Linked DNA regions of Homo sapiens: region 2 is linked to region 1. Evidence: fine-mapped expression QTL. A gene starts in region 1. The other region holds a variant in brackets. All regions are shown on one strand. Distances are from middle to middle. Region 1 holds the start of AGBL1 (AGBL carboxypeptidase 1). Region 2 overlaps AGBL1 (AGBL carboxypeptidase 1).

Evidence for each region. PIP is the estimated chance that this variant, and not a neighbour inherited with it, causes the effect. A credible set is the group of variants that fine-mapping cannot tell apart.
Region 2: its variant is the best candidate, but not a certain one, in a credible set for the expression of AGBL1 in skeletal muscle (FUSION, PIP 0.65).

Annotation. Positions count from the first base shown.
Region 1 is chr15:86,077,725-86,083,106 of GRCh38, reverse strand. AGBL1 (AGBL carboxypeptidase 1) reads right to left here and starts at 3,236. Exons shown (of 23, transcript NM_001386094.1): 1 at 3,084-3,236. The coding sequence starts at 3,134.
Region 2 is chr15:86,866,050-86,871,431 of GRCh38, reverse strand. All of the region lies in intron 22 of AGBL1 (AGBL carboxypeptidase 1), which reads right to left. Among named protein-coding and RNA genes, the nearest start is that of AGBL1-AS1, 550 kb to the right of the region's middle. The variant A/T (reference allele first, on the strand shown) is at 2,727.

The DNA.
Region 1 (5,382 bases):
CAACGAGGGAAATCATAAAACCACAGTCATTCAAACAGCCATTTAGAGTTTACAAGCGCTTTTCAGATGTATTCTCTTAATCCTCACAGAAATGCTAAGGAACGTATTTTTAAGGCCCTTGTTTTACAGATTACATAAATGGAGGCTCAGAGAGGTCGAGGGACTTTCATAAGGATAAACAGCCGAGTAAGTGCCAGACAAGGGGCTGGATCCAGTCCTTTCTGCCTCTCGCACCTGTGCTGTGGGCTGCCTGCCTCCTGCTTCACCCAGACCCACATCAGTCAGTCTGATTTTCTGCCTCACACCCACGCTGTAAAGGCCAGGAAGTTGGAACATGTCTGGGTAGAAATCTGATTCTCAGACCTTCGGGACAGAGATAAAGAAGCTGTTTTCAAGTTGTGGTAGGGAAAACCACTTACCCCTTCCTCATGTGTGCAGGAAAAAGTTAACACACAGAAAACTGATGTTTCTTAGTGGCCCGGTTTATTTTATGCCCCTAAAGAGTCAGAAATGGTGATATGCTTAAGTAGGAGGACATCCACAAACATAGCACAGGGATATTCTGTTATGCTTGTGTTTGCCTTTTCTGTCCCTCCAATCTCTTTCTTCCTTCCCTTGGCAACCTTTTGGGGCACTCCTAAAAGACATGGGAACTGAGACCTAAGCTCACATTTGGTTCAAACTTATTCACTGCTTTCCCCAAAGGTTTGAGAAGCAATTCAAAGCCTTCTGTCTGTCACCTTGTGCACAAGAAGAGACAGACTGGTTTGAATTGGTAAGATCTTTGGGATCCCCAACTGAGACAGGTTCAGCTAACCCTTTCTCAGAAACAATGTGAGCTCACCTAGTTTAAGTCCATGGGGAGCAGGGATGGGGACAGGACATCAAATCCATCATGAAAGATTATTCCACAGAATATATGTTCTGGGTTCTCTTTTTTAAAAAGCGTTTCAGAGTTCTGACTTCTACCGTAGAGACAGAAACAGGGCTTAGGGAAGCACTTGGTGCAGGCCAGGCCAGGAACCCAGGTCAATTCTAAACCAAACTCTGATCAACTGAGGAGTAAACAGGAAGCGTGCTCCTGTTATCATAATGTTCTGCTTAATTGGGAACTAAGTAGAGTCTAGTGAACATAATTAAATCTTTCTTTGATAATTGGGAATCTAGCAGTGCCCCGGGGTGATCATGCTAAACATCAATTATCAATTCTCACTGGTGGGAATGCAGGCAATTGAGTTCAACCTGAAGTGACTTTGAGGCCGACTACAGGACATTCATTTTTACTGAACCCCTATTACCAACTTATTACTTTCCCTCTTTCCTAGACAGCTAGTGCAAGGAAAATTCTGTCCATGAGATATTTTCAGTTGTTTGAATCAGTTAATCAAGATCTCCATGCAACTATTCAGAAATTAGAAGAGGTCTCAGAATGTCAGCTTATTGTACCTGGTTATTAAATCAAATAAATCTAGCCAGATACAAATAAATCCTTGGATTTATTTTGCAAATTTCTTTTGAGGTCCACTCCTGCCTCCAGTACCCCTGGTCAGATACATTCTCACCTTGCATGAATCAGATAGAATGAGTCAAAGGACGCCAAGTCAACTGAATATTGAAGGCCCAGTTCTCCTACTATGTAGCCATTTGACATCAAGGAGCCTATTTCACTTCTGAGATTCCGTTTCCTTATCTGCACACCTGAAGGTTGCACTTATTGGTTCTTAAACTTTCAGGAATACAAATCTTCTTAAGAATCAGAGAAAAATGGCCAGGTACAGTGGCTCACGCCTGTAATCCCAGCATTTTGGGAGGCCGAGGTGGATTACCTGAGGTCAGGAGTTTGAGACCAGTCTGGCCGACATGGTGAAACCCCATCTCTACTAAAAATACAAAAAATTAGCCAGGCATGGTGGCAGGAGCCTATAATCCCACCTACTTGGGAGGCAGAGGCAGGAGAATTGCTTGAACCTGGGAGGCAAAAGTTGTAGTGAGTCGAGATCACACCATTGCACTCCAGCCTGGGCGACAGAGTGAGACGCTGTCTCAACAAAATAAAAACAAAAACAATCAGAGGAAAATTAAGAACATTTTTCCCAACAGGGAAAAAGGAAAATACGTACAAAATGTTTATATTCTAAACAGGGGAATGGGGTCATGGACCCCCCCCCGCCCCCACAAGCCCATCATCTTGTGACCCCTTCCAGGAACTTCCAGCTTAAACTCCTGGGGTAGAAGACCCCTTGGGCCTTTTTGAACACTGGCATCCTCTGAATCCAGCTAACTACAAGCATAGAGAGTAGTGGTTCTCAGCCTTAAATCTACATGGAGACCCCGGGGGAGTTTTCAAACTCTAACGCTCGGATTGATCCCTAGATCAGTTAAATCCATGTCTTTGGGGGTGGGTCCCAAGCATGAGTATTTTTTGACCCTCTCCAGGTGATTCTAATGTGCAGACAAGTTTGCAAACCACTGCTGTAGAACAAGAATTCTCAAAATTAGGAATGAATAGCATCCCCCAGGGAGAAGGCAGTTTCCCAGGCTACTGCCCTACATGATTCAAACACCTTCTAGTCAGATCCTGCCTGGGAAAATGCACTGATAGTCGGCATCCCAGGCCATTCTGATGTAACTACAATGTGGGAGCCCAGTAAGATAGCCATTTAGCAGGAGATACCCAGAAGGGTCCTCTCCTCACCTACCCTGTCCTCCCAGACAGCTCTGCATGCTCTCAGCAGGTCTCCAGCCTTATTCAGGAGGAGCCTCAACAGGTCCCCTTCATTTGCCAAACAGGCTTTTTCTCCACCTTTCCCATTTCTAGAAAACTCGGATCTTTTACCCAGAGCCTCTGATCCCACGAGGATCAATAATTTAAGCAGAACAATCATCAACATCGTCGTGTTTAATATTTGAATTCCATAGCATCACTTAGGTCAGCTTCAAGGTGAGAGCCGACTCCTGTTCTCTTGCTGTTAACAAACTGGGCCAGTGACTGCCAGAGGGGACTGTGTGCATAGCTCCCAGGCAGGCCAGCCCAGGCAAACACCCAGCCCGCCGGGTTCTGCACCCACTCTACCCTTTCCTACCTGAAGCGTGTGCAGCAGGACCTGTAGCCCACTAGCTTCTTGTTCGGCCATCCTTTTCTCGGGTCCTAGGGAACCGCTGCCTGCGGCCAGATCCAGGCTGGAGAGGCAGCGGCTGCCAAGCTGACCTCGCTGCCCGCCTCGCAGGAGACGACTGCCCGGAGGCCTCAGCTGCACATGCTGCTGAGTGTGAAGTCAGCGCGGTGCAACCCTAGACCTCGGCACAGGCGTGAATACCCACCGACTCCCACTGTGGGGATTAGGTGAGCCCCTGCTGTGGGGAGGGCTGAGCATTTGGGTGCAGGGGTGGGGAGGGCACCAGCATGAGTCACTCACCCACCTCCAGGCCCATGCAGGAGCAGAGCAAAGGAGAAGCCACCCTGGATGGCTGACAGGCATTCCCAGCTGACCTGGTCAGACTCCCTCTAGAGGCTCGCTCAGCCCGCCCCGCTACCCCACCCCACCTCTTTATTTTGGTCTGTTGCCGGCTCCCGGGTAACAGGAGACCCAAGAGTGCTTGCACAACTGTGGCAGTTCAGGGCATAGAAACCCAGGGCCCCCTGAGGTCCCAGGCTTAGAAACAGGAGCTCTGGCTGAAAAGGAAAATAAGTATTCTGGACATTTTTTATGGACCACGTCCCTTACGTAATCTTTTAATTTTTACAGTAACCTAATAGAGGTGGGTACTATTATGACTACCCTATCCCTGTTTTACAAATAAGAAAACTAAGGCACTGAAATGTTAAGCCACAAGAACACAGAGCTTAGAATTGCATGCCAGGCCTCAAACAGGCAAGCTGGCACCAGAACACAAGCACTACCCATTGCACCATCCTGCCTCTTGCTGCAGCAAACACTTCAAAGTAATGGAGGTCTGAGAGCCATGTCCTCAGCCTCAGGGACAGCAGATGCCCGGGACAAGTTTCCTTCAGACCAATGTAGAATCCATGATCACTTTCTATGTTTTCTGCTAGGGATGTGTGAGCAGAGTCTTAGCGACTAGCTTCTCCTCCTCCCCATATCAACACCCTTCAATGCTGACTTCTCAAAGTATGGTGCTAGGGCGTCACCTGGAAGCTTGTTACGCCTCTCCCCAGAACTACTGTGTCCGAAACTGCATTTAAACCAGATCCTCGGGGGATTTAGAGCTGGTTAACAAAATGACCAGAGGATTAAAGTTTGGAAATCTCCAATTTCGACTATATTGATTACATTGCCTGCGTGTTCAACAACTCTGACAATATTTGACCCAATAAACGAGTGCCCAGCAAGGTCAAAGCACAACTTTACTGTGTTGAAAGCTCGCTTTATTGCATGAAATTGGAGCGCTGAGCTCAGTGGAGATTCTGACTGAGAGCACGGTCAGGTATTATAGAAGAGTCTCAGTGACTGGGGGAGTGGGCTGCCAGCCAACACCCCCGTGCGGAGTTTAGGGAGATTCTGTGAGCATCACAAGCATTCATTAGGCAGGTACCAAGCACATTGGGGTGACTGAAGAAACTGCATTTCCAGATCCTGCTTGGCCTAAGTGTTCTGAAGTCCCGAGTCAGGGGTCAGGCCTGGCCAAACCCTCAATTCAAGGGCAAATTCATGTAGTCCTGCCCTCAAGAAATTTCCACTTAATGGCTTTAAATATGAAGGCCTCCCATCTTGGGAACTGACTATAAGCGCTCACATTTATGAAGCTTGCGGGGTGGGGTTGACGCCGTCTACCCCTACCCCAATTTCTCTACATCTGCTGCCAGGAGGGTAGAAATAGAGGTTCTCTATGGATTTCTATGGGAGGGTGACGCTTTTTAGGGCATGTGCTCTCTAATCCTCTAAGGCCCAGGGTGAAGGGAAGACAGAACTGTCTCATGTGATTGTCTTAAGGGGAGATCATTTCATGGTTGTCAACTGGAGGATAAAGAAAAGAGATGGGGGAAGAAAGAAACAAAACCATTTTCCCAACATAGACCTAAAAAATAGTTCAAAGATAAAAAGTAGTGAGAAGTCATAAAAATGACCTCAGAGGAGAGAACTAAAGGTTTTGTGGTCACACTCCCTGATATTAGAATTGGAGCAAAATTTTCTCCATTTTGAAGAGTGTCTCGGTTAAGCTGCCTGGAATTGCATAGGGCAGAAGTGAGATTAAAATCCTATATGTAAAGGATTGCTCTCTTCTACTTAATGATGACTTTCCCCCCACCGCAGTGCCAGGAACCTGGTTTCCAGTAAACCCCTTGTGAGATAAGGAATGGGCTCCCTCTCTTTCAGGTGACACATCTGCCTCCCATGCCCAGCTTGGCTGCTCTCCCCTTCA
Region 2 (5,382 bases), 790 kb before region 1:
ATACTACAGAGATCTAATAAAACTATGACTCATGGCAGGTCAAGGAGTTCATTTAGGCTTGTTTTGTGAAGGTATCTGGGCTTCCTATTGAAACAGTTGTCAGGTTGACAGGTTGAGGTCAAGCTTGATCCTTTTGAGGGTCTCTGCAGATAGATACTCCCTTTGAAATAGCAAGCCCCATATCTGACAGATGGATGTCTCTAGGGATCATGGATACTGGAGACAATTTCCTTTCTGTTCCCATCTCCTACCCACAAATCATGAGGAAGAAAGGAAGCAAAATGACAACGGCTTTTCTGATTTGGTTTCTTAAGCTGGCTTCCTGGCTAAGTCACTCAGATAAGTTTGTCTAATTTCATGGAATGTTTCCAACAGGAAGGCATCATGTGGGTTGAGGGAGATAGTGAGCGACAGATAAGAGTTACTATCCCTAAGCAGTTAGTTGCTGGGCACCAAAGGCAAGCTAGCCCAATCTCTCTGTCAAGTCGACTAAGGAATCTGTACTTTAGATATTCCCTTGAGCTAAAATTTTGTTTGGAAAATTCCAATGTTGTTTCTGTAGCCAACTGGCCAAACTGAAAGATCAGATCCAATATCATCTTTGATGAAATAGTAATCTCAGTACATATGATGTATCCCCTATAGTATAGACAGCACCAGCAAGCCCGTTTATCCTGAAAGAAATCAGGGCCATGATTACACTGCATCTCTTTTCCTCATGATTTCTCCCACTCATTTATTCATCAGATGCCTTTTTTTTCTCTGCTCCTTTCTTGCTTTCCATATATCTATTTGAAATATGTCTGAAATAAATCTCAAGGCTCCCAGGAATATTTCTGCTCATGTAAGCATGTGTACAATTTTCATCCTCATGTTTTCACACAAGCAATGTTTAAATGCCAAAGGGAAAGGGCTTTTGCTGTGTTTGTTTCTTCTTTTTTTTTTTTTTTTTTTTTTTTTTTTTTTTTTTTTTTTTTGCAGTATGCTTTACTTTTTTCTTGCCACAGTTGGATGCAGGCTATGGATTCTCTTTTAAATGTTATTTCTGAGGCAGAAAGAGGAAATGGAAAAGCTTAAATCCTGACTTTGCCACTTACTCATTATTTGACCTTCAAGATGTGACTTAAATTCTCAAAGCCTCAGATTTCTCCCTTGTAAACTGAGGATGAAAAATAGAGATAAAGTATTTCTCTTAGTCTATATAAAGCATTAAGTATTAGTGGCTATAAATTAGTTCCCTTTTCTTTCCTTTTCCAATTAGATGATCTTAAGACAATTTAACTAGAAAGTTCATGTTGTTCAATTATAAACATGAATCTCTTCTAATCAAGGTTATCTGTGTGTTAGAATAGGGGGTCTGAAAGGCCCTGCAGTCTAAATAGAAGTGGGGTGATGCAGTCGAAGGAAGGAGGGAGATATGACTTTGATGCAATGGTTTCAAAATGGAAACTTGCGGGCAATGGATTAGCCTATTTTGCAGCTCTGCTGGACATAAGTCCAGGTAAGCAACCAGGTACTGTCAAGTAACAAAATGATGCTTGTCTCCTCATAAGCTTCCTAGGAAAATGAGAATTCAATTTAATGACTTAAGGTAGAAAGGATCTCAAGAGATGATCAAGCTTAGACTTGGGCCACTTGGGATAAGGTATGTGAAGTACTTAGCCAAGGGCTTGGTACATGGCCCTCCTTGTCAGCATGTGTAATAGTTGGGGTAGTAGGGATGGTTATAATAATTATTATTGTTATTTTATCATTACTATTATTAGGAAGCATTTGTCTAGAATCAAGTCAAGCAAAGTTTGGTAACACTTTCTTCTCTGTCTCTAGGCTTTATCCACATATCGGATCTACAGGGTCTAAATAGACATCCTATGAAATATGCCCCTCATGACTTCTAGACTGTGCCCCAAGTTCTTCTCTAAGGAAGTTGAACACTAGTGTGTCATTTAGCTTTACCATATCTTAGATTAAAACATCTACATGTTTATTGCTAAGGAAGGAAACCAAAGCCCTGAAAATGACCATGATTATTAATCCAAGGATGTTGAGCGGCTCTGAGGCAGAGAGGAGGAGAGACCTGCAGCTGGATTCTCTGTGGTGGGTGGGAGCAGCTGTGCCATTGTGCATTCAGGGGTGGGCATCACGTGGACCACTGGGAAGACACGGTGGGGGGTGGCTTTTGCATACTTGTGTCTCTATCTCCCACCTCCATGCTAGCTTTTCCCCTGACACACCTCTCTGTCTTACCCAGTGGGAATTTTGGAGAATTGACCATTAGACAGTTTATCAGTTGTGCAAGCACAGTTTCATAGAGTTTAGTCTGCTTAACTCAAATTCAGAAGCATTTATCACCCTGCCACCAAGGCAGTTGACAGCTAGTATATAAATGCCCTAAAAATTCTTTCAAAATGATGCCTTTGCTTGGTCCTTGAAGCTGTTGATTTAAAGGCCTTGAATTGGGAATGTCCTAGCTGTAAGCCAAGGTGGACGTGCCACTTTCTTTCATTATCTTCTACTAAAAGCACAGGCAGTTTAATTCATACCCGTTGTTTCTATTCTATTTTTTTCCAATTTTGAGATTGCTTTTTATTTTTTCAACATGTTGCATGTCACAATTCCATTAATTTCTGTCACCCCACCAATATCTACTAGTGGTTCACAGGCCTTACTTTTTAGTAGTTTTGTTGGACATAAGCCCAGATATAAACCAGACAGTGCGAAGTCAC[A/T]GAATGAAGATTTTCTCTTTAATGAATTCCCAGGGTGAGTGGAAATCAGTTTAATGTCGTTCTAGATAGTCATATTTCGTTACAACATCCTCTTCACGAATGCTTTACACGCCTATGTTTTTAAAGCATTAATTTCTAGTTTTAAACCACTAGATTCGAAAGTACTTAGAATTATGTGATAGTTGAATGTGTCCCTTGTGCAACACCCTTGTGGGGAAGTGGACATTTCTTCCATGATTTCTAGTCACTAAACCTGAAAGAATTCCCTTAGCTTGGTGCTAAAAGTCATAAAGGATTTTCTAATTGCTATATAAACAAGACTTCTCATCTAGAAAGACCCAAGAGGTTACAGTCTTGTGTGGCTTGGTTAGCTATATGCAAGCTTTGTGCTATACAGTTAGTGCCACATATGAATAGTCCTCTGGCGACCTCACAGGGTTTGAAGCTTTTCTTGTGACCCATTAAACCAAATCATCTTCACTCTACGTCCATGGCTGTTCCTTTGCTTCTTGCCTATTTTTTCATGTTTTTTTTCATGTACGTTTCATGTGTCTTCAACTCTACCTGATGACCGATGTTCAACTTCATCTGATGTTACATCCTGACCTCTCACAGACCGGATTAGCCACATTGATAATTCCTTATTTTGAAAAACTGTAAAATATACACAATCTGACATCTCTTGGATCATGGCCCCAATATATGATCTGGATTCAGGCATTTATGAAACACCAAAATAAGGGCTCACCTCTCTGTAACGATTGCTATTTCCTTTATTCCCTATTATAAAATAATCTGGGTTCATTGGGATATCTGTATATTGGACGGCCATGGATAAACTTAGAAATTTGCATTTAAGGAGACAAATTAGTACCTCAGATCTTTAAAGTCAATCCTATCCATTTCCTCAGCTTTAAGTTACAGCTGCTAATTGATTTCCCTCTGCTTTCATACCAACATATATCCTACTTCTTTTAAATGTCTATTTATTTTTGCACAGTGCCATGAACAATAAAATTGAGCCTAAAATATCTAGCACTATAAGCCCCACCTAGTCCGGGTGCATTTTGCCATTTTATTGTTCTCCCCGCCTCACAGGTTCACTCACATGACATGTTTCTATTTCAAGTATAACACAATGAGTCTTCACCAAAGCATCAAAGCCCATTACTGAAAACAAAATTAAACACGTCCAGTGTAATTTAATGCTTAATTTTTTAAAAAAACTGTTGTTTTCACTCCTGCCACATACAGAATCCCTCATCCTCGGGGCAAGCAGTAAGTGGAAACATGTACCACAAAACGCAGAAAGTTATTCTCTCCTACCTAGTAGGTGAGTTGATTTGTAAAATGTAAAGTTAGCATAATGTCAACTCTTGGCAAAAGGAAAATTGAAGTACCAGCACATCAAGTGTGGTTTTGAGGGAAGTGTTATGCTGTGACCAACGTGGGTAAAGAAAAAAAATGAGGGCTGAGTAAACCTTCAATGAGTTCTATAATTGTACCTACCATTTATGATTGTGAAATACAATTCCCCCACCCCCAAGAAAAGGATAAAGCTTAAGTCCTGACAGCATGAGATGCAAGTGTGTTTATGACATGACCCCTCTTCTTCCTCATTACTCACTCCACTCCCAAACTCCATGCCACAGCCACACTGATATGATAGATGTCTCCTAGGAGTGTCTCACCATCTCAACTCATGCCCTTGCAGACATTAGTTAATCAAATGGGACCTCTGTTCTGCATCTTGCCTAACTTCAATCCATTCTTGCAAATGCTCTACTGATACTCTCTTCTCTGGGAAGCTTTTCTGACTTCTACAGTCTCTGTCAGATGGGCAAATAGTGGACTAAGCATAGTTCTATTTAACAAATGCTTGAGATGGAGTCTTGCTCTGTCCTCAGCTCACTGCAACCTCTGCCTCCCAGGTTCAAGCAATTCTCCTGCCTCAGCCCTGAGTAGCTGGGACTACAGGCATGTACCACCATGCCTAGCTAATTTTTGTGTTTTTAGTAGAGACGGGGTTTTACCATGTTGGCCAGGCTGGTCTTGAACTTCTGACCTCAAGTGATCTGCCTTCCTCAGCCCTCCAAAATGCTGGGATTACAGGCTTGAGCCACCACACCCGGCCAGAGGTAGTATTCTATTTATTGTTGATTTGCCAGCATCTAGAAAAATGCCTCCTTTGGGAAAGAGTAGGTGCTCAATAATTGTTTTCTGAAAGACTTATGCAAGAAGTAGATGACTGTTGTATTAACCATCATTCCCCCAACCTGGTTTTGTCACAGAAACAAGATCACAGTTTGCATACCTCCTTTGAGGGTGTGATCAATGCCATAGCGACATGAAGTAAATATGGCTCAGGCCATCAATGGAACTGAAGTCCAACCAACAATTCAAGAATAGTACCTGAGGAAATGGTATATAGGCAATGATAATGGTCACTATTAAAATACCCATTGTCCTTCATTTGTCAAGATGACTTTTCTAATTCCTTCAATGGAATGTTTATTTTGAGTCATAATCCAGTTATGAGAAGAAAAATGATCTTATTTTTATATTCAGAGTTATGATGAAAGGAAATTGTGGTTTGAGAATTTAGAAGGGAGCCAAAAAGAATGGCAGAGTAGATGACAAAGATGTTTCTTACAGT